Linked DNA regions of Homo sapiens. The gene in region 5 interacts genetically with the main gene of each other region. Each region holds a gene or a part of one and is shown on either strand. Other genes may lie near its edges.

What was found.
Region 1: changes in PRKAA1 (region 5) and LARS2 together harm fitness more than expected from each alone (negative genetic interaction), as found in Homo sapiens cells (one large-scale study listed by BioGRID).
Region 2: changes in PRKAA1 (region 5) and CDC25A together harm fitness more than expected from each alone (negative genetic interaction), as found in Homo sapiens cells (one large-scale study listed by BioGRID).
Region 3: changes in PRKAA1 (region 5) and ALAD together harm fitness less than expected from each alone (positive genetic interaction), as found in Homo sapiens cells (one large-scale study listed by BioGRID).
Region 4: changes in PRKAA1 (region 5) and PFKFB1 together harm fitness more than expected from each alone (negative genetic interaction), as found in Homo sapiens cells (one large-scale study listed by BioGRID).
Region 6: changes in PRKAA1 (region 5) and CD22 together harm fitness more than expected from each alone (negative genetic interaction), as found in Homo sapiens cells (one large-scale study listed by BioGRID).

Annotation. Positions count from the first base shown.
Region 1 is NC_000003.12:45,391,554-45,395,145, forward strand, and holds part of LARS2 (leucine--tRNA ligase, mitochondrial), read left to right. Parts: intron 1-29; 5' UTR 30-95; intron 96-2,879; 5' UTR 2,880-2,900; coding exon 2,901-3,134; intron 3,135-3,592.
Region 2 is NC_000003.12:48,157,413-48,161,004, reverse strand, and holds part of CDC25A (M-phase inducer phosphatase 1), read left to right. Parts: intron 1-1,549; coding exon 1,550-1,661; intron 1,662-1,919; coding exon 1,920-2,060; 3' UTR 2,061-3,592. UniProt on the Homo sapiens protein: Tyrosine protein phosphatase which functions as a dosage-dependent inducer of mitotic progression. Directly dephosphorylates CDK1 and stimulates its kinase activity. Also dephosphorylates CDK2 in complex with cyclin-E, in vitro.
Region 3 is NC_000009.12:113,388,516-113,391,343, forward strand, and holds part of ALAD (delta-aminolevulinic acid dehydratase), read right to left. Parts: intron 2,419-2,828; coding exon 2,283-2,418; intron 2,162-2,282; coding exon 2,078-2,161; intron 1,979-2,077; coding exon 1,890-1,978; intron 1,314-1,889; coding exon 1,258-1,313; intron 1,172-1,257; coding exon 1,084-1,171; intron 1,010-1,083; coding exon 923-1,009; intron 592-922; coding exon 462-591; intron 1-461.
Region 4 is NC_000023.11:54,987,670-54,991,261, reverse strand, and holds part of PFKFB1 (6-phosphofructo-2-kinase/fructose-2,6-bisphosphatase 1), read left to right. Parts: intron 1-541; exon of another isoform or gene 542-623; intron 624-3,592. UniProt on the Homo sapiens protein: Synthesis and degradation of fructose 2,6-bisphosphate.
Region 5 is NC_000005.10:40,770,783-40,774,374, forward strand, and holds part of PRKAA1 (5'-AMP-activated protein kinase catalytic subunit alpha-1), read right to left. Parts: intron 1,082-3,592; coding exon 937-1,081; intron 1-936. UniProt on the Homo sapiens protein: Catalytic subunit of AMP-activated protein kinase (AMPK), an energy sensor protein kinase that plays a key role in regulating cellular energy metabolism.
Region 6 is NC_000019.10:35,339,131-35,342,722, reverse strand, and holds part of CD22 (B-cell receptor CD22 isoform 1 precursor), read right to left. Parts: intron 1,843-3,592; coding exon 1,585-1,842; intron 1,381-1,584; coding exon 1,117-1,380; intron 1,022-1,116; coding exon 758-1,021; intron 1-757. UniProt on the Homo sapiens protein: Most highly expressed siglec (sialic acid-binding immunoglobulin-like lectin) on B-cells that plays a role in various aspects of B-cell biology including differentiation, antigen presentation, and trafficking to bone marrow.

The DNA.
Region 1 (3,592 bases), on a different chromosome or scaffold from region 5:
TTATTTTATTTTATTTTTCTGCTTTTCAGATCCAGACCTACAGATAAAAAACATTATTTAATCTATCTGGGATTTACTCCGGCTTATGATTTGAGGTGGGGCTCTAATTTTAAGTTTTTCTCTTATTTGTTGAATAATCTATTACTATCTAATCTGCTCCTGCTTTTTTAAAAAAATGAACTTTAAATGCTTTTAAATACCCAGATCTGTTTCAGGATTCTCTAGTTCACTGGTTTATTTAAGCAAAGCAGAGGTCATTAGTAAGCCAGGTATTATGTGAACATTTTTAGAAAGCTTATTCTTGTTGTGTAGACAGACAGTGTAGGCAGAGCAGTTCAAGTCACTGTATTTTATAATTTTGTTGTGCCCTTTTGTTTCTATTTGAGAGGATAGCCCAGAACACTCCTTAGGTGTTCTTTGGGGATGCTGTCTAGGAGAGAAGTGGCAAGCATCCATCTATGTGTCCTCTGCTAAACAGGCGTTCTTTGGCTTGCAAAGGTATGAAAGTATTGACTTGGCAAGAGAACCATAAAATCTGTGACTTCTATATAATTAGGGAGTTCTAATTATAGCAACCTAAGCCCTAAAAATATATGCAATTGCCTTAAGTGTACAAAGCGTATGTATATTAGGTCAGTCATATGGAATTGCTAACATTTAACCAATTTCATATAGTTCAAATGCCTGTAATCAGATCTGTGTACTTTAAAATAGCCAAGCCCAACTAATAGAGAGATTTCTTTTTTATCTTTTTTTTTTTTTTTTTGAGATGGAGTCTTGTTTTGTCGCCCAGGCTCTGGAGTGCAGTGGCGCTCACTGCAACCTCTGCCTCCCAGGTTCAAGTTATTCCTCTGCCTCAGCCACCCTAGTAGCTAGGATTACAGATGCACGTCACCATGCCCAGCTAATTTTTGTATTTTTAGTAGAGAAGGGGTTTTGCCATGTTGGCCAGATTGGTCTCGAACTCCTGACCTCAGGTGATCCGCCTGCCTCAGCCTCCCAGAATGCTGGTGTTACAGACGTGAACCATTGCCCGTGGCCTAAGAGAGATTTTTTTTTTTAAGTCTGCACTTTATTCTATCCCTGAAGAAGCAAGAGGTGTTTAATGTAGTGAGAACTGATAATGTCAATGACTTTGGCAGACCAACTTGTAAGATGCCCACATTATGTTGCTGTCTTATGTGAGTTTGAAACTCACTGTTATAAGCCTATATTGACCTTCCTGGCAACATTTGTGTTCTAGTACCTTTGTGAAACAGGCCAAATCCTGATAGAAGTGGAATTTTGAGAGAATCAAAGAACATCAGCTTAGAGTGCCGGGTTTCTTTATTTCTCTCTGGTTTTGAAAAGATCTGTTGTCATCTGTTTTTTCACTGTAGCACTTCTTGAATGCTGTTATGCCAGAAGGAGAAAGTTTAGGCTATTTAGTCTAGTATTTATATCTTAAATATTTGATAAAAATCTCACCTCAACCCTTTGAATAGCAATAAAACATGAAACTTCTTCAGTGAGGTCATTTCCAGTATTTACCTGTGGAAGAAGCCAACGAAACATTAAAATTGGATTTTGAATCACAACTGGATATCCTGGTAGGCCCCAACCTATGAGTTGTATTTCAAAAAATAGCACTCACCGTGACCACATGTTATATATTTTTGTTTCTCATCTGCCTCCCTTATTGTTTGTTTCTTATCTGCTTCCCTGCTAGTATGTAATAAGTGCTACGAAAGAAGGGACTCTGGGCCAGGTGTGGTGGCTCACGCCTATAATCCTAGCACTTTGGGAGGCCAAGGTGGGTGGATCATGAGGTCAGCAGTTCGACACCAACCTGGCCAACATGGTGAAACCCCATCTCCACTAAAAATACGAAAATTAGCCGGGCATGTTGGTGCATGCCTATAATCCCAGCTACTCAGGAGGCTGAGGCAGGAGAATTGCTTGAACCCAGGAGGTGGAGGTTGCAGTGAGCCAAGATCATGCCATTGCACTTCAGCCTGGGCAATAGAGCGAGACTCTGTCTCAAAAAAGAAAAAAAAACAGAGAAAGAAAGAAGGGACTCTGTTTGTGTTTACTGCTATATTCCCAGTACTTAGAACAACGTGTGGGCCTAGTGGTAGTCATTAAATATTTGGTGGTGGCTCACGCCTGTAATCCCAGCACTTTGGTAGGCTAAGGCAGGTAGATCGCTTGAGCCCAGGAGTCAGAGGTTACACTGAGGTATGATTATGCCACTGCACTCCAGCCTGAGTGAAAGAGCAGGACCCTGTCTCTAAAAAGTAAGTAAATAAATAAATAAATATTTGGTAAATGAAGGAGAAACTAAATGAATTAACAGTCTTCTAAATAATGGTTATTTTCTGGTTCAGCCTACAGGGTATATTTAACTCATAATATGTATAAAAATTACTAATAGTAGTTCAGAATTTCTGGCCCTCCTGGGAGGCCTGTATTTAGACCCCTTCTGATATTTGAGCCTAACGCCAACTCAGCATGTGCTTGAGCTCTTCTGAGGCTTGAAGACATAAGAAGTGAAGCCTGCTGGAGAGTCCCTGGGCTGGCCCATGGGGAGGGGAGGGAGGGCACTCCATGCCTTCCATGCAACTTGTGAGGTTGCGCAGGAGCTGGCCAGCTGATGGTCTCCATTTTTTCCTACAGGATTTTTGCATCTTTGATGTTAGGGGTTACTGACCCTTTATATTTTCTATTAAAAAGTTTGTGTTTAGCTCAATTGAATTGCTAAAGTATTCTTTTCAGGGAAAGAAATTATTAAAAGTAAGAGGAAAGCACAGGGCCAGAACACTGGACTGTGCCAAATGGAAAGATAAGCTCTGGGGAGGGTTTGAGGCAGCTCATAGTGTGCTTTCTGCCCTCTTTTTCAGGGCCTTCTCACCTTCTGAAGAATGGCTTCTGTTTGGCAGAGATTGGGTTTTTATGCCTCTCTTCTGAAAAGACAGCTAAATGGTGGGCCAGATGTCATCAAGTGGGAAAGGAGAGTAATTCCCGGATGTACCAGAAGCATCTACAGTGCCACGGGAAAGTGGACAAAAGAGTATACATTGCAGACAAGAAAGGATGTTGAGAAATGGTGGCATCAACGAATAAAAGAACAGGCCTCCAAAATTTCAGAAGCTGATGTGAGTATTCTGAGAGATTCTAAGAGGGTAGAGAAGAGGGGTTGAAGGTTTGGACCCTGGGGTTAGACTACCTGGTTCAAATAAGATATTAAATATGTGACCTTGAACCAAATTGTTGAATTTCTCTGTGCTTCAATTCTCTTATCTGAGATGGAGAGTGATCATAATAGTGCCCACCTGCACTATTGGGAGGGGTAAATGGATTGGGAGGCATAAATGAGGTGATACAAAGGTAGTGTTTACAAGAGTTTCCAATGTGGTGGATGCACACATAGTAATATTGCGCACGAGGTGTATGACAGACAGCAGCAAACCAGGTGTTCTAGAGCAACATTTACTGGGGAAGCTCATCAAAATAGGAGCTCTACCAGATGATGGGTCCTTTGTGGTCCATTGCATGGTGGGGCAGCACACAGGGATCTGGCAGGGTCATATCTGAGACTCCAGGAGAGGCACCT
Region 2 (3,592 bases), on a different chromosome or scaffold from region 5:
ATTTTTTGTAGTTTTAGTAGACACAGGGTTTCACTATCTTGGCCAGGCTGGTCTCGAACTCCTGACCTCGTGATCCACCGCCTCAGCCTCCCAAAGTGCTGGAATTACAGGTGTGAGCCACCGCGCCCAGCCAAACTCCTTTTAACCACAGGCAAATGGTTTAAGCTACGTGCTGCAGAGGAAGCTGCTGCCCATCCCTCATGAGCAGCTAACAAAGGCCCCAAACCACTGAGCTTCAAGAGAAAATCAGCAGATACTCTTGGCTCTTGTGTACCAGATACCTTTCTAGATACTGAGGGAGAAGAGCAGTGAACAAAACAGACCAAAAAATCTCTGCCTTCATGGAACTTACATTTCGGAGTGGACAGGAGATCGAGACCAGCCTGGCCAACATGGTGAAATCCCGTCTCTACTAAAAATACAAAAATTAGCCAGGCGTGGTGGCGGACACCTGTAATCCCAGCTACTTTGGAGGCTGAGGCAGGAGCATCCCTTGAACCCAGGAGGCAGAGGTTGCAGTGAGCCGAGATCGCGCCAGTGCACTCCAGCCTGGGCGACAGAGTGAGACTCCATCTCAAAAAAAAAAAAAAAAAGGTGACTGGGTGCGGTGGCTAACTCCTGTAATCCCAACACTTTGGGAGGCCAAGGCAGGTGGATCACAAGGTCAAGAGGTCGAGACCATCCTGGCCAACATGGTGAAGCCCCATCTCTACTAAACATACAAAAATCAGCTGGGCGGTGGCACGCGCCTGTAGTCCCAGCTATTTGGGAGGCTGAGGCAGGAGAATTGCTTGAACCCGGGAGACGGAGATTGCAGTGAGCCTGAGGTCACGCCCTTGCACTCCAGCCTGGTGACAGAGTGAGATTCTGTCTCAGAAAAAAGAAGGTGCTTCAGAGGAAAATAAGGCCAGTGGTGGAGCTCCCAGGCAGGCTGGAGGAACAGTAGTGGGGCTGCAGGGGCTGGCGTGGGGTGAACAAGGGGCAGAGCAGCAGTAGGGGCCTGTAGAGCTGTAGGCCTCTGAAGGACTTGGGGCCTCGGGCTTTTTCACCAAGGGCGAGGCAGTAAGCAGCCATTGGCTGGATATTGAAGACCATTCAGTCCAAGTAGAGGATAGAAACAGGGCCCCGAGGCAGGAGCAAGTTCAGCCTCTTTAAAAGCCACAGAAAGAAACAAGCCCACTTATGTAGAAGGAGGTGAGTGAGGGAGCCTGGCTGAAGAGAAGGCTGGGGTGGAGAAAGCAAGGGGAAGCTGGCTCATATAGTGAAAACTTGCCACAAACTGTGGTGGTGAAGGTGCTGGGCAGGACTCAGATGCTAGGATTGTTGGAGAAAGGAAAATTGGGGAAGAGACCATCTACTGGCACTGGCTGTGAGTGCTGCTCATGTGGCCAGGAACTTGCAACTCAGCACTGATTGTTTCTAAGAATAAATGTCAAGTTGGGAAGATGTGTATAAGGGGGACTTAGACCACAACTGCTGCTTTGACTGCGTTGCCTTGTTGCTGTGCTGGAAAAGCTAACCCTGCTTTGGCCTTCCTTCCCCTGACTAGGTGCCGGTATGTGAGAGAGAGAGATCGCCTGGGTAATGAATACCCCAAACTCCACTACCCTGAGCTGTATGTCCTGAAGGGGGGATACAAGGAGTTCTTTATGAAATGCCAGGTAAGACTGGGGTTGTGGAGAGCATCTCTCCTCCCCTGCCCCCAGTGGTAGACTAATGGATCTGTCTGGTGGTCATGACTTTCTTTCCAGGGGTCGGGGGACAAGGTGGGTATCTGCTGAACCCAAAGAAAGCCCCTGTAGAACTGGCTCCCTAGGTCTGCCTGGCCGCTTTCAGCCTTGTAGCCCTAGGCAGAGAGGAAACCAGGTTGTGGGTGTGAGGCAGGTGTACCCTAACCTTATTCTCTCCTGTCCCCTCAGTCTTACTGTGAGCCCCCTAGCTACCGGCCCATGCACCACGAGGACTTTAAAGAAGACCTGAAGAAGTTCCGCACCAAGAGCCGGACCTGGGCAGGGGAGAAGAGCAAGAGGGAGATGTACAGTCGTCTGAAGAAGCTCTGAGGGCGGCAGGACCAGCCAGCAGCAGCCCAAGCTTCCCTCCATCCCCCTTTACCCTCTTTGCTGCAGAGAAACTTAAGCAAAGGGGACAGCTGTGTGACATTTGGAGAGGGGGCCTGGGACTTCCATGCCTTAAACCTACCTCCCACACTCCCAAGGTTGGAGCCCAGGGCATCTTGCTGGCTACGCCTCTTCTGTCCCTGTTAGACGTCCTCCGTCCATATCAGAACTGTGCCACAATGCAGTTCTGAGCACCGTGTCAAGCTGCTCTGAGCCACAGTGGGATGAACCAGCCGGGGCCTTATCGGGCTCCAGCCATCTCATGAGGGGAGAGGAGACGGAGGGGAGTAGAGAAGTTACACAGAAATGCTGCTGGCCAAATAGCAAAGACAACCTGGGAAGGAAAGGTCTTTGTGGGATAATCCATATGTTTAATTTATTCAACTTCATCAATCACTTTATTTTATTTTTTTTTCTAACTCCTGGAGACTTATTTTACTGCTTCATTAGGTTGAAATACTGCCATTCTAGGTAGGGTTTTATTATCCCAGGGACTACCTCGGCTTTTAATTTAAAAAAAAAAAAGAAGTGGGTAAGAAAATGCAAACCTGTTATAAGTTATCGGACAGAAAGCTAGGTGCTCTGTCACCCCCAGGAGGCGCTGTGGTACTGGGGCTGCTGCTATTTAAGCCAAGAACTGAGGTCCTGGTGAGAGCGTTGGACCCAGGCTTGGCTGCCTGACATAAGCTAAATCTCCCAGACCCACCACTGGCTACCGATATCTATTTGGTGGGAGGTGTGGCCCTGTTCTTCCTCACCCCAGTTCCATGACATTGGCTGGTATAGGAGCCACAGTCAGGAAAGCACTTGAGGCAGCATCTGTTGGGCCACCCCCGGCTCAGTGCTGGAATGTTGCAGTGTAGGTTTCCCAGGGAAGGGGGGTGGGGGTAGGTGGGCTCCACAGGATGGGGGAGGAGCATGTCCACTGAGTATCTTCCTTATGTTGCTGTGATATTGATAGCTTTTATTTTCTAATTTTTAAAAAATGGTCATATTATGAGTCAAAGAGTATCAAATCAGTGTTGGATGGACCACCCAAGGGTGAGGAGAGGGGCTGGAAGCCCTGGGCATTAGGAGAAGGGAGTGGGTGCTGGCATGGACATGACTGGATAGAATTTTCTCAGGAGGGAGCTTGGTGGATTTTGAAGGTAAAACTTTCTGGGTTTATCATGTTTTAATTTTAGAGACAGGGAGTGATGAATCATCACCGGTTGTCCCCTTATCTAACTCCATAAAAGTGGGAATTTCAAAAGAACACCTCATCCAAGGAGCTGGGGCAGACTTCATTGATTCTAGAGAGACCTGTTTCAGTGCCTACTCATCCCTGCCCTCTGGTGCCAGCCTCCTTACCATCACGGCTTCACTGAGGTGTAGGTGGGTTTTTCTTAAACAGGAGACAGTCTCTCCCCTCTTACCTCAACTTCTTGGGGTGGGAATCAGTGATACTGGAGATGGCTAGTTGCTGTGTTACGGGT
Region 3 (2,828 bases), on a different chromosome or scaffold from region 5:
TCTATTTCTTGGGCAAGTCATTTCCTCTTTTGGGGCCTCAGTTTACCAAAGAATAAAATGCACAGTGAAGGAAATAGGTAAGAGGCAAGTTCCTTCCCATGCTGGTGTGCAATTCTAACAAAATGAGTCCCCTTTATGGAGTGATATTACTTCATTTAATCCTCAGGACAACCACGCACCAGGTATCTTATCCCCAGTTATCCAGTTATGGGTGAGGACACTGAGGTTCAGAGAAGTGGCTTGCCCACGTTCTCACAACCAAAAATGAAGGGCTCTGCTTGCTTCACCGGGCCGTGTTCTATGCTGCAGTTCCATATCTCTTCCTCAGTGTGTGTCTGTTTAGATCACTAGTAATTCCCGGAATAAGATCCCAAGCTCTCAGGACGTCGTTCCCCAATCTAGGCAGAGTGCTTATCAGTCCCTGTGGCGCAGGTCAAAACACCCCACCCTTGCCTGCCTACCTGCTCTGCGGAAGGCAGTCATGGCCTCCAGTACGGCAGCCTTGAGATCAAATGCCCCGGCCTGGGCTCCATGCCACAGCATGGCAAACTCTCCAGAGACGTGGTACACGGCGAGAGGGAGGTCAGGGTGCTGCAGGGAAGCAGACAGGGAGACAGGCTGAAATGGAGGGTGGATGTGGCTCTGGAAGCGTCCCTTCCCCCCTGCTCAATCTGTGACCATCTTGAGCCCCGTGTCCTGGGTTACTGCGGCTGGCAGCCTGGCCCACTCTTGAACTGTTAAAGCAGGGCTGTTTGAGGCTCGTGCAAGCCCCGACATAGAAGGCCACGATGGTTCCTGGGCAGGGAAGGGGAGGAGAGGATGCATGCTTAAGGGCAAACTGCTTCCAACTCTGAGATTCCAGAGTCTGTGGAAAACTCTGTCCCAGCCCCCTGAGCCCCCTTTGCCTCGTACCTGTGCTCACCTTGTCCTTTACCTCCCGCACGATGTCCAGGTAGGGCATTCCCGGCTTCACCATGAGCATGTCAGCTCCTTCCCGTACATCCCGGTCCTAAGGGATGAGGGTATAATGTGGGTGGTGCCTAGGAGGGGGCTGAGGGTGGGGCTCAAGTCCTAGTCACTCACCACAGCTCGGAGAGCCAGGCCTCGTGCTCCAGGGGGCAGCTGGTAGCAGCGGCGGTCCCCAAAAGCTGGGCTTGACTTAGCTGCATCCCTGCAAAGCAGAGTCATCAGGGTGGGCTCCAGCTTTGGGCCAAAGGGCCAGGGATTCACAGCAGACCCCTGCCCACCCCTGCTCACCGGAAAGGGCCATAGAAACAGGAAGCAAATTTGGCACTGTAGCTCATCACCGATACCTATGGGGAGACAATGGAGGTCTTGGCTTATTCGGCCCTTGCCAGGTATCCCAGGGTGATGTGGCAGGGAGAGAAAGAACCTAGGCTGGGAAGGAGACTGCCTGTGTTCTGGTCCTGTTGGAGTGCTGGGCTTGATTTCCCTGCAGAGGCCCAGAGGTTTAAATGGTTCCCCAAAGCCTCATCCAGCACTGTCTTCAGTTCTGTGATTCTTTTTTTTTTTGAGATGGAGTCTAGCTCTGTCATCCAGGCTGAAGTGCAGTGGCATGATCTCAGCTCACTGCCTCGTGGGTTCAAGCGATTCTCCTGCCTCAGCCTCCCCAGTAGCTGGGATTACAGGCGCCTGCCACCACGCCCAGCTAATTTTTGTGTTTTTAGTAGAGATGGGGTTTCACCATGTTGGCCAGGCTGGTCTTGAACCCCTGACCTCAAGTGATCTACCTGCCTCAGCCTCCCAAAGTGCTGGGACTACAGGTGTGAGCCAACACGCCCGGCAGTTCTGTGATTCTTAGCAGACACGGGGGCAGGGCTGGTGCAGACTATCTCCTGCCAGCCCTGTGCTGCATTCCCTGCCCTTACCCTGTTGCCAAGTCCATGTGCCATCAGGGCCTCTTTGATGGCTTCCACGCGTCCATCCATCATGTCCGACGGGGCTACCACCTGACATCCTGGGGGGCAGAGGGTGGCCTTCAGAACTCTGGGGCCCTCCTAGCCACTCTGCCACCTCCTGACCCAGAGGTGCCCATCCCTGCTGGTGGTTCACTCACCTGCCTTGGCATACGCCAATGCCACCTCAGCCAGCCGCTGGCGGCTCTCCTCAGCCCGGAATGCTCCGTTTTCACTCAGGAGCCCTTCAGGACAGATGACTGGGTTTTGGGGAGCACCTTGGGCCCTGGCCTGTCCCCACCCTGTTGAGAAGTGGGCAGTAGGAGTGTGGGTGGCAGCAGGGCTGGTGGGAGGGAGGGAACTCACCGCAGTGACCATGGGAGGTGTAGGGACACAGGCAGACATCACAGGCCACCAGGAGGTTGGGGAAGGTCTTCCTCAACAGATGGATTGCCTCAATAGCTGGGGACTCCTCGGAGTCAGCTGCGGAACCCCGCTCGTCCTAGGGGCAGGGGAGGGACAAAGCAGTGTGTCTATTACATGTAGCTTTGGAAGGCAGGATGACAGCCATCACAGAGCATAGCCCTGGCCTTCTCCTTCCTTCATCATCACAGCCCCTGGATAAGGAAGCACAGAGGACTGACCCTACATGGGTGCTGACTTAAGGGCAAAGACCACGTCCATTCACCTGTGGCCCCAGGGCCAGCACAATGTGGGAGTGAGGGTGCAGTCAGTGTGGACCCTCAGTCCACCTTTGCCCAACCTCCCTTCCTTTTTCTGTTTGTATTGGAGACAGGGTCTTGCTCTGTCACCCAGGCTAGAGTGCACTGGCGCGATTTTGGCTCACTGCAGCCTCGACTTTCTGGGCTCAAGCAATCCTCCCACCTCTCCACCTCCCGAGTAGCTGGGACT
Region 4 (3,592 bases), on a different chromosome or scaffold from region 5:
GTATGTTGCTAATGTATACAACTGTATTTGTTTTTCATGTAATGAATTTGTAACTAGCAAACCTGCTAAACTTTCTTATGAGTTTTGATAATTTGTATGTAAATGACAGCTTTCATTTTCCCCACAACCCTCATTTTTATCTTTCTTATATTATTACACTGCTAAGACCTCCCGCCTTTAATATACACACACGAGATGTGCAGTACACGTTGAAAAGAAATGTTAATAATGTATATTCTTATGCTGATCCCGATTTTAAGTTTCACCATTGAGCAAATTTGCTGTAGTTTTTTTGGTAGATATCATTTAATAGGTTAAAGACGTTCCTGTTTATTCTGAGTTTGCCAATACAATTTTTAAAAGATGAATGAATATTGAATTTTATTAAACATGTTTTCTGTATTCACTGAAATGACATTAATTTTCTATTTTAACCCATTAATGTGGTACAATACATTAGAGTTTTTCTTGTGTTGAAATAATCTTGCAGTCCTGGGATAAATAAAAACTTCTGAATTTCTTTCACTAATTTTTTGTTTAGGATTTTAGCATTTTGCTCAGGAAAGAGATTGGCCTGTGATTTTTCCAAGAGTGTCAAGATTACACTAACCTCATAAAATCAGGTGGGAACTATTTCCTTTCATTCTGTCCTCTGACAGAGGTTGTCTGCAGAACTAGCCATTCCTCAAATATTTTACCTGGCAGCATTTCCAGGTAAAATATCTGGACCTGGTGTCTCCTTTAACATTTTAACTGATACAATCTCTTTTATCAGTTATAGAGTCCTTTCAGTTTGCTATTTCCACTAAAGTTAGCTTTCTTAAGCTTTCCTAAGTTATGGTTTTCTATGAATTTTTCTACTTCACATAGTTTTCAAATTTATTTTGTGTAAAGTTCTTATCTTTGTATCTTTTTTATCTCTGTTGCATTTGTAGTTATAGCTTCTCTTTCATTATAATATTATTTATTTGCACCTTTTTTCTCTTGATCAATCTTGCTATAAGTTTGACACTTTTATAATTCTAAAATAATCAACTTTTGACTTTTTGATCCTTTTTTATCTTTATTTTCTATTTAACTATTTTTTCATCATTATTCTGTTTCTCCTACTTTCTTTGGATTTATTCTGTTGTTCTTTTTTAACTCATAGAGTTGCCTGCTGCTCAGCTCATTCATTTTCAGACTTTCTTCTTTTCTAATTTAAGTGTCCAATGAGATAATTGGCCTACTAAACAGGGCTGATATTCCACAGATTCACAATCGTATGGCCATATGAATTTTCAGAATATTTCTAGTCCATTTTATAAATAGGCACTCTCCCAGGCTTTTTTAGTCTCTCCAACACTTACCCAGTTACCCTGGCCACCTCAATTCCTTTCCCAGGATAGCCAGGACCTACTGATTATCATCTAGCAACTAAAGGATTAATGCCTACCACAGCAGGAGGCCTCCAGTACTTGGTGCCAGCCCTTGGACCAGCTTCTGTTTTGATAGATCAGTGCTCTTGTCATTTCTATTTTAATTCCATTCTGGTCAGAGAACAAACTTTGTATTATTTCAGTTCTTTGAAATCTGTTGAGACTTGCTTTATGGACCAACTTATGGACAATCTGGTAAATGTTCCAAGAGCACTTGAAAAGAATGTGCGTTTTACAGTTGTGTTTAGTGTACTATATACCTCGATTAAGTTGTGTTTGTTAATCTGGCTCAAATGTTCTATATTCTTCTGGGGTTTTGGCTGCCTGTTGATATGGAAAATTTGTTAATGTTTCCTTGTAATTCTGTCAATCTTGAAAGTTCGTAGTTACAAACAAATTTAGAATTGCTATATCTTCCTTGTGAATTGAATATTTTATCACCATGTAAGGAAATTATTAACTCTGGTAATACCTGGTAATTTGGTATCATTGATGTTTTTGCCCTATAATCAATCTTTTTTCTCATATTAATATACCTACATTAGCTTTATTTAGCTTAATATTTGCCTGGTATGTGTTTTCCTACATTTAAAAAATTGTTTTTGATAGAGATATAATTCACATACCATAAAATTCACCATTTTGAAGTATACAGTGGTTTTGAGTATATTCACATAGTTGTGTAACCATCACCACTAATTCCAGGACATTTTCTTTATGCCAAAAAGGAATTCCATACTCTAGACTCACTCCAGATGACCCTCTCCCCTTAGCCCCTGGCAACCACTAATCTACTTTCAGTCTCAATGAATTTGCCTATTCTGGACATTTTATATAAGGGGAATCATACAATATGTGGCCTTTTGTATCTGGCTCGTTTCTTTGGGCATGTTTTCAAGGTTAATCCATGTTGTAGCATGCAAAGTCACAAAGATATATGCCTAGGCTTTTTTCTAAGAGTTTTATAGTCTTGGCTCTTACATTTAGGTTTTTCAATTTATTCTGAGTTAATATTTGCATGTGGTGTGAGATGGGAATCCAGCTTCGTTCTTTTGCATGTGGCTATCCAGTTGTCCTAGCAGCATTTTTTGAAAAGACTCTTCTTTCCCCTACTTAATTGTCTTGGCACCCTTGATGAAAATCAGGTGACTATAAGTTGAAGGGTTTACTTCTGGGCTCTCAGTTCTATTCCATTTGTTTATATGTATCTCTACCCTTATACCAGTACCACACATTCTTGATTATTGTAGTTTAATTGTAATTTTGAAATTGGGAAGTATGTCTTCTAATTTTGGTCTTTTTCAGATTGTTTTTATGATTGTTTTGGCTATTCTAGGTCCTTTGCATTTCCATATAAATTTTAAGACCAATTTATTAATTTCTGCAAAGAATTAAGCTGAAACTTTGACAGAAGCTGCATTTAATCTATAGATTAGTTAGGGAATATTACCATCTTAACAATAATAAGTTTTAGGTCCCTGAACATGAGATGTTGTTGCATTTACTTAGGTCTTTAATTATATTCACCAATGTTTTGCAGTTTTCAGAGTGTTTTACATTTTTTAAAGTGTTCTTTTAAGCATTTTATTGTTTTGATGCTATTGTAAATAAAATTGTTTTACTTAATTTCATTTTGTTTGCTCATGGCTACTTTATAGAAATGTAATTGATTTTTATATATTGATCTTATATTCTGCAACATTGCTGGACTCATTTATTAGGTCCAATGGTGTTTTTTAGTGCATTCCTTGGGATTTTCTATATACAAGATTATGTTATCTGCAAATAGAAATAATTTCATCTCTTCCTTTCCAATCCAGATGCCTTTTATTTTCTTTTTCTTACCTAATTACCTTGGCTATAACCTCTACTAGAATGTTGAAAAGATGAGATGAAAACAGACATCCTTCTGTTGTTACTGATCTTGGCAGGCGGCATGGGAGAAACTATTCAATCTTTCACCATTAAGTGTGATATTCACTGTGGGTTTTTCATTGGTGTCTTTTATTAGGTTTAGGGCCTTTCCTTCTAGTTTTAATTTGTTGTTGGTTTTATCATGAAGGGGTATTTAATTTCCCAAATGCTTTATCTGTGCCTATTATGATGATCATTTGGTTTTTTTGTCCTTAATTCTATTGATGTGATCTGTTGCATTAATTGATTTTCAAAGGTTA
Region 5 (3,592 bases):
TTTTCACCATGTTGGCCAGGCTGGGCTCGAACTCCTGACCTCAGGTGATCCGCCCGCCTCGGCCTCCCAAAATGCTGGGATTACAGGTATAAGCCACCACGCCCAGCCAAAATAAATTCATTTTTAACAATCAAAATGTTCTTTAAACAAATTATAATTTACTATCATTTAAAACATTTTTAAATTTTTAAATAAATTTTTTTAATTAAAAAATTGTTTTAAATAATTTTAAATAATTAAATTCACATAGTTCACTTCTGGTTTTTAAGGTTTTAAATAATTCCATCCCACTCACTTTCCTTCTTCTCCATACTTGATTCTTTTGAACATACTGGAAATAAAGCTGCTACCTTCTCTTTCACAAATAATACTCTTTTCAAATAGTCTCTCTAATACTACCAACTTAAGTTGTTTAAAATTTAATTTTAAAGATATTTAAAGAGCCAGGTGCAGTGGTGCACACCTGTAATCCCAATACTTTGGGAAGCTGTGGTAGGAAGATCACTTGAGGCCAGGAGTTCAAGAGCAGCCTGGACAACATAGTGAGAACTTGTCTCTACAAAAAGACAAAACAGCCTGGCATGGTAGTGCACGCCTGCAGTCCCAGCTACTCAGGAGGCTGAGGCAGGAGGGTCACCTGGCCCAGTAGTTTGGGGATGCAGTGAGCTATGATCACGTCGCTGCCCTCCAGCCTGGGCGACAAAGCGAAACCCTGCCTCTATAAAATAATAGTAATAAAGACATTTAAAGCTAAGAAAAGATGATTTCTTAGCTTTTCTTCTTTTTGTATCTTCATAGACAAAACAGAATACTTTGATATACTCAGTCTATTACTTTATGTAATCTTTTACAGTTATCTGAAGAATTCTAGGTAGGTTCATTGAAACTATAAGAACATTAGAAATGAACGTTAAGAAACTATAAAATTATCCTTACCAAAATCAGCTATCTTTGCATTCATGTGTGCATCAAGCAGGACATTTTCAGGTTTCAAATCTCTATGGACCACCATATGCCTGTGACAATAATCCACACCAGAAAGGATCTGTTGGAACAGACGCCGACTTTCTTTTTCATCCAGCTAAGAAAAGTTAGAGAGGCTTTTTAAAGGTGTGTCTTTCAAAGTAAATTGTCCTATCTATAATTCTCCAACCTATAAAATTGTCAAAATACATGAAAATCTTCCCAATGAACTTCACTTATGAGATACTTTTGACATGAGGAGGAGATACCTGCAGCACAAAACAGAAATGCTAAGATGGTCTTGGAACCCAAATCAGTAACTCAAGTTTCTAATATTATCATTTGCATATGACTACATTGTAACAGCTTGCCTTCCTCTATATCTCATGAGTTATTTCAAATAATTTCAATATCTACTTGAAATTTGGCATATTTCCTTTTATAAGCGGCAAATGTTTACTCTTTCATTCTTTTAACAAATTACTGAATACCTTCAACGTGCTACACATTGCTTTAGACACTCATTACACAGCAATGAATAAAACAAAGGCTAATCTAGTTGATGAAAATAGACTAATAAATATAGTCAGAAGGAGTGATACTGTTTTGAAGAAAAATAAAGCAAAATATAGGTGCAGTGAGTGATAGTGGGGTGAGGGACACTATTTTAGACCATGAGGAAGTAATATTTAAGCACTATTCATAAACCAGCAAGCAACTATGTTGCTATATGTCCTAAAATAGAAGACATTTTAACAACAAACACCTTAATTCATTTAATAAAATATCATAGCATTTTATCTTTAATATGCTTGCTAAAAAAAAAATCTTACATAGCAACTACCTTTTCATTTTTGTTTTTTGTGTTTTTTTGGGGGGGCGGGGTTTTAAATTTATCTATATTTTGAGATCCAGTCTCGTTCTGTCATCCAGGCTGGAGTGCAGTGATGCCATCACGGCTCACTGCAGCCTCGGCTTCCCTGGGGTCCCGCAATCCTCCCACCCCAGCCTCCTAAGTAGTTGGGACCACAGGCACATGCCACCACGCCCACTAATTTTTGTATTTCTGATAGAGACAGGACTTTGCCATGTTGCCCAGGCTGGTCTCGAACTCCTGAGCTCAGGCAATCTACCGCTTCAGCATCCCAAAGTGCTGAGATTACAGACATGTGCCACTGCATGCAGCCTGAAGTATTTTTTTTAAACTTCTCTATGTATCCATATATTATTACCACTTTTTTCAACATAAGTGACAGCCATTACTTGGACATGCCTGCTCCCAAGAAGTCATATTTAATAAATAAGCTATTAATCCTCTAGGCGAAGGACTCCAATATGCAATTCTCTAACACAGGTCACAAATTAGCATTCTAAAACCAGACTTACACCTTAAAGGGCATGGATAATATGGGAGAAAATACAAATCAGTAATTTATTTTGAAACAAGAAACTATTATAAGATACCATTCCTCTAGAAAAATACTAATCCTTTAGCATTCTAATACTTTTATTTCTAGATTTGTAGGTTCATGGGGAAAAAAAAGAGTATCTGTTCAAATATGAAAAAATAGGAGAAAACTTGATTAAACAAAATATAAAAAGTAAAATAGACAGGCTACAAAAATGAAAATTATACTGTATTAGTAACAAGTACAATTACAAAGGATGGAGAAAGGGATGTCTATAAAGGAAGGTTAGAAAAGTCAAAATACATTTCCAATTAAATGTAACAGATTAAATCTTTTGTCTCCAACTCTTGAAACATCACTAAAATGACATCAGCAATAAAACAGGCATATAAAGACAAAAAGAACAAAAGAGACAGCAGTAATCAAGAGGAGTCACCAAGGATGACAATAGATAAACAGTAATAAAGACTAAGCCTACAAGAGAAAGCTAAAACCTAAGCCTATAGGGGTAGAAACCAGTAAAAAATAAACATCTGCATACAAAGCCTGGGAAGCCTTAGAAATTGGAAACACAGGGAACTGCTCAAGGTAGAAGTGAGAGATGAGCTGAAAACAGGACAAGTGCTTGAAGTAAGAAGCTTTTAAACTCACCCATATTGGGGAATAAGACCTATAATTTACTCTAGTAAGGCTGAACCAGCTCTGCTCTCAAGGACACCAAGGCAGGGATAAGGCATCCTAAGGAAAACATGGGGGCTAAGACAAAGTCAACATACTAACTAGTGAGACTTGCATCTCTTTTCTCCACTCAGCTCCTGGAGCACTGGCAGCTAAGCTAAGGCCTTTAAGGAAATGGGAAGGTTTCTTCTGGAGCAAATATCTGATCCAAGAAAACATATTTGTTATTATTAGCATTTGGTATACAGTAATAAAACAGACAAGTCCCTACCTATTCAAGCTATGAGAAAACCCAGCAATCAGTAAGTCCTACCCACATGAGCCTGGCATTTAATACCCTATTCTTAAATATTTAGTGGACAGCCAAGAATCACCAAATATCTGAAGAAGGGCCATGCATCAAAGACAAAAATGAATAAAATGAATGCAGAGAGCACAGAAGGTACAGAACAAGACGGAACAGAGGAAGACTTTTTTTAAAATGCCATCCTCAGACTAGGTTATTATATCTGTGAGGCAAATAACAGCAGACTAAAAAAATG
Region 6 (3,592 bases), on a different chromosome or scaffold from region 5:
GACTTCTGGAAGGTGGAGCAGCCTGAGAGGGGACCCTAGAGGGAGGCAGGAGAGACTGCAGGGGAGGTAGAAAAAGAGAGACTGGTGACGCAGGACAAGACGACTCCTCCAGCACAGCGGCAGATGGCCTGGAGCAAGGGGTGTGAATGGGAAAGGGGACAGTGAGGTGGGGAAGAAGGGGCCAGCTGGTCTGGAAGGCTTTTCGGGAAGTCACTGGAGGAGACAGGGCCAGAGAGGAGCATGAGAGGAAACAGGGAGAGGCACAGTGGCTCATGGCTCTAATCCCAGGGCTTTGGGAAGCTGAGGCAGAAGGGTCACTTGAGGTCAGGAGTTTGAAACCAGCCTGGTCAACATAGTAAGACCCCATCTCTACAAAAATGTAAAAATTAGCCGGATGTGGTGGTGCATGTCTATAGTCCCAGCTACTCAGGAGGCTGAGGCGAAAGGATTGCTTGAGCCCAGGAATTGGAGGCTGCAGTGAGGTGTCATTATGCGACTGCACTCCAGCCTGGGTGACAGAGTAAGACCTTGTCTCTATAAGAAGAAGAAGAAGGAAGGAGAAGGAGAAGAAAGAGGAGGAGGAGAGGGAGAAAGCAGAAGAAGAAGAAGAAGGAGGAAGAGGAGGAGGAGGGGAAGAAGAGGAGGAGGAAAAGAAAGAGAGAAAGAAAGGAAGGAAGGAAGGAAGGAAGGAAGGAAGGAAGGAAGGAAGGAAGGACTGACCACCACCAAGAAGAACAAGAGCAGGAAGAGGCCTTACAGTAGACGGTGAGGGTGCTGAGAGGCGAACGGCCCTTGCCCACACTGTTGGTCCCCTGGCACCAGTAGGCACCCGAGTGCTGGACCTTCACCGGCTCCAATCTCAGCTTCTGGCTGTGGTAGGGGAGGCTTTGGTTATTCCAGTCAAACCAGGTGTAGTGGGAGACGGGAGGGTTGGCGTCGCTCTCACAGGTCAGGGTTGCACTCTTCCCCTCCATCACTTGGTCCCCCGGGCTCATGGACACACGCAGCCTCCTGGGTGCATCTGCATGGCGGGCAGGGGGAGGGGGTGCGAAGTCACTACCAGGCAGGCCACTGGTCCCTTCTCTGCTCCACTCCCAGCCTCCGGCCCTCACTCACACAGCACTTCAAGTGTCCAGGCCTTGGACGCTGTCTGTCCTATGGAGTTGTTCACCCAGCAGCTGTAACTCCCAGCATCTTCTGGGGAGATGGAGTCAAAATTCAGCTGGCTTTCTTTCCCCAGAAGCCTGCCATTTTTCTCCCAGAAGAACTGGACTTCTTTGGGGTGGCTGCTTGAGAAGTCACATTGGAGGCTGACCGAGTTTCCAGAGTGAATCTCGGAAAGGGGCTTGATTTTCCGGACCCTCACGTCTCGGGGGGCATCTGGAGGGCAAGGGTCCCAAGCTGACCTCTCCGCTCCCTGTCCCTTTTGCTGTCCCCAGGCCTCCCCTCCCCTTGGCCCTGACGCCAGGCTCCTGTCCCTCAATTCTGTTGAAGACACTGGCCCAGGCTCCGGCCTCGTTGCCTTCATCCCCTCATCCCAGCCGGGCCACCTCCCAGATCCCCCTGCCTAGCCCAGGGACTCACACTGGACATTCAGGGCGACAGGGGAGGCCCACGAGCACCAACTATTACAAGCTGCGCAGGCGATGGTTGTGTTGTCCCAGCCAACGTTTTGGATCTTCAGCACCCCAAGCGATGGCTCCTCCCAGGCGCCATGGGGTTTCCATTCATACCGGGTAACACTGGGGTTACTGGAATTGTAGTTACAGGAAAGGGTCACTGTGTCTCCTTCTCGAATCGGCATGGGGTTTTGAATCACTGTGGTCACCTTCTTGGGAGGATCTGGAAGAAAACCAGAGAGGTGAGTAAAGAAAAGCCAGCTGTCCACAGTACCCCTTCCCTCCTGCTTCCTCTTCTCCCGCTACCTGTCCCGGGCATCTGCACAGGTCCTAAATTAATCAAAGGGGGGCTTGTGCGTCCTTCCTGCATCTGTGTGAGAACAGAAACCCTGCCCTGGCTCTCTGGCCTGGCTGTGGTTTGGTGCAGGGGTTCAGGGCACAGCGCTGAAGCCAGACGGCTGCTGAGAGGCGCACGGGCATGGGCTGCAGGTCTCAGTTTACACGTCTGTCAAATGGGGTCCTGAGGCCGGGCATGGTGGCTCACGCTTGTAATTTCAGCACTTTGGGAGGCTGAGGTGGGCAGATCACCTGAGGTCAGGAGTTCGAGACCTGGCCAACACAGCAAAACCCTGTCTCTACTAAAAATTTTAAAAATTAGCTATGCATGCTGGTGCATGTCTGTAGTCCCAGCTACTCAGGTGGTCGAGGCAAGAGAATCGCTTGAACCCGGGAGGTGGAGGTTGCAGTGAGCCGAGATCAAGCCACTGCACTCCAGCCTGGGCAACAGAGGGAGACTCCATCTTAAAAACAAGAGGCAGTGCGGGGTGGGTGGGGGGTGAGTCCTGAGAGTTCCTAACCTCCTGGGAATTGTTTCAAGAAGGAAATGAGATGACTCCCTTAGAGCAGAGTGTGGCGTGTGGCAAACACTCCACAAACATCACTGTGGCTGCTGTGGTCACGCATCCAGCTGTCTGAGATGCTCAGGATTTGGGCACCCCTGTCCTGTTAGCACATATGACATCTCAGGGTCCAAGGATCGAGCTTATGTGTTCTTTTTGTCCTGTGCTCTACATGGTAACAAGATTCACTGTGTTAAAAGGGTCTTACAATGGAGAGGTAATGAGACAGTTTGCCCCAGTTCTCATTAAAAATTTCAAGATCTCTCAAGACTCAGCCACTGCCTAGGGACGCTAAGTCTCTGTGTCCCTCATGGAGTCCTGGTATCTTGCAGTTAATTATTCTTTTTTTTTGGAGACAGAATCTCACTCTACCCAGGCTAGAGTGCAGTGACATGATCTCAGCTCATTGCAACCTCTGCCTCCTGGGTTCAAGCGATTCTCCTGCCTCAGCCTCCCAGGTAGGTGGATTTCAGGTGCCTGCCACCATGCCCGGCTAATTTTTTGTATTTTTAGTAGAGACAGGGTTTCGCCATGTTGGCCAGGCTGGTCTCGAACTCCTGACCTCAGGTGATCTGCCCACCTTGGCCTCCCAAAGTGCTGGGATTACAGGCGTAAGCCACCATGCCTGGCCAATCCATTCTTTTTTTTGAGACAAGGTCTCACTCAGTCACCCAGGCTGGAGTGCAGCGGCATGATCACAGGCTCACTGCAGCCTCTACTTCCAGGCTCAGGTGATCCTCCCACCTCAGCCTCCTGGGTAGCTGAGACTACAGGCATGCATGACCATGCCAGGCTAATTTTTTTTTGTAGAGATGGGGTTTTACCATGTTGCCCAGGCTGGGCTTGAACTCGTGGCCTCAAGTGAGCTGCCTACCTTGGCCTCCCAAAGTGCTGGGATTACAAGTGTGAGCCACTGTGCCCAGCTCACACCTATAATCCCAGTCCCAGCATTTTCTTTTTCTTTTTGAGACCCAGGTCTTGCTCTGTCACCCAGGCTAGAGTGCAGTAGCAGGAACATAGTTCAGTCTGCAGCCTTCACTTCCTGGGCTCAAGTGATTCTCCCTCCTCAGCCTC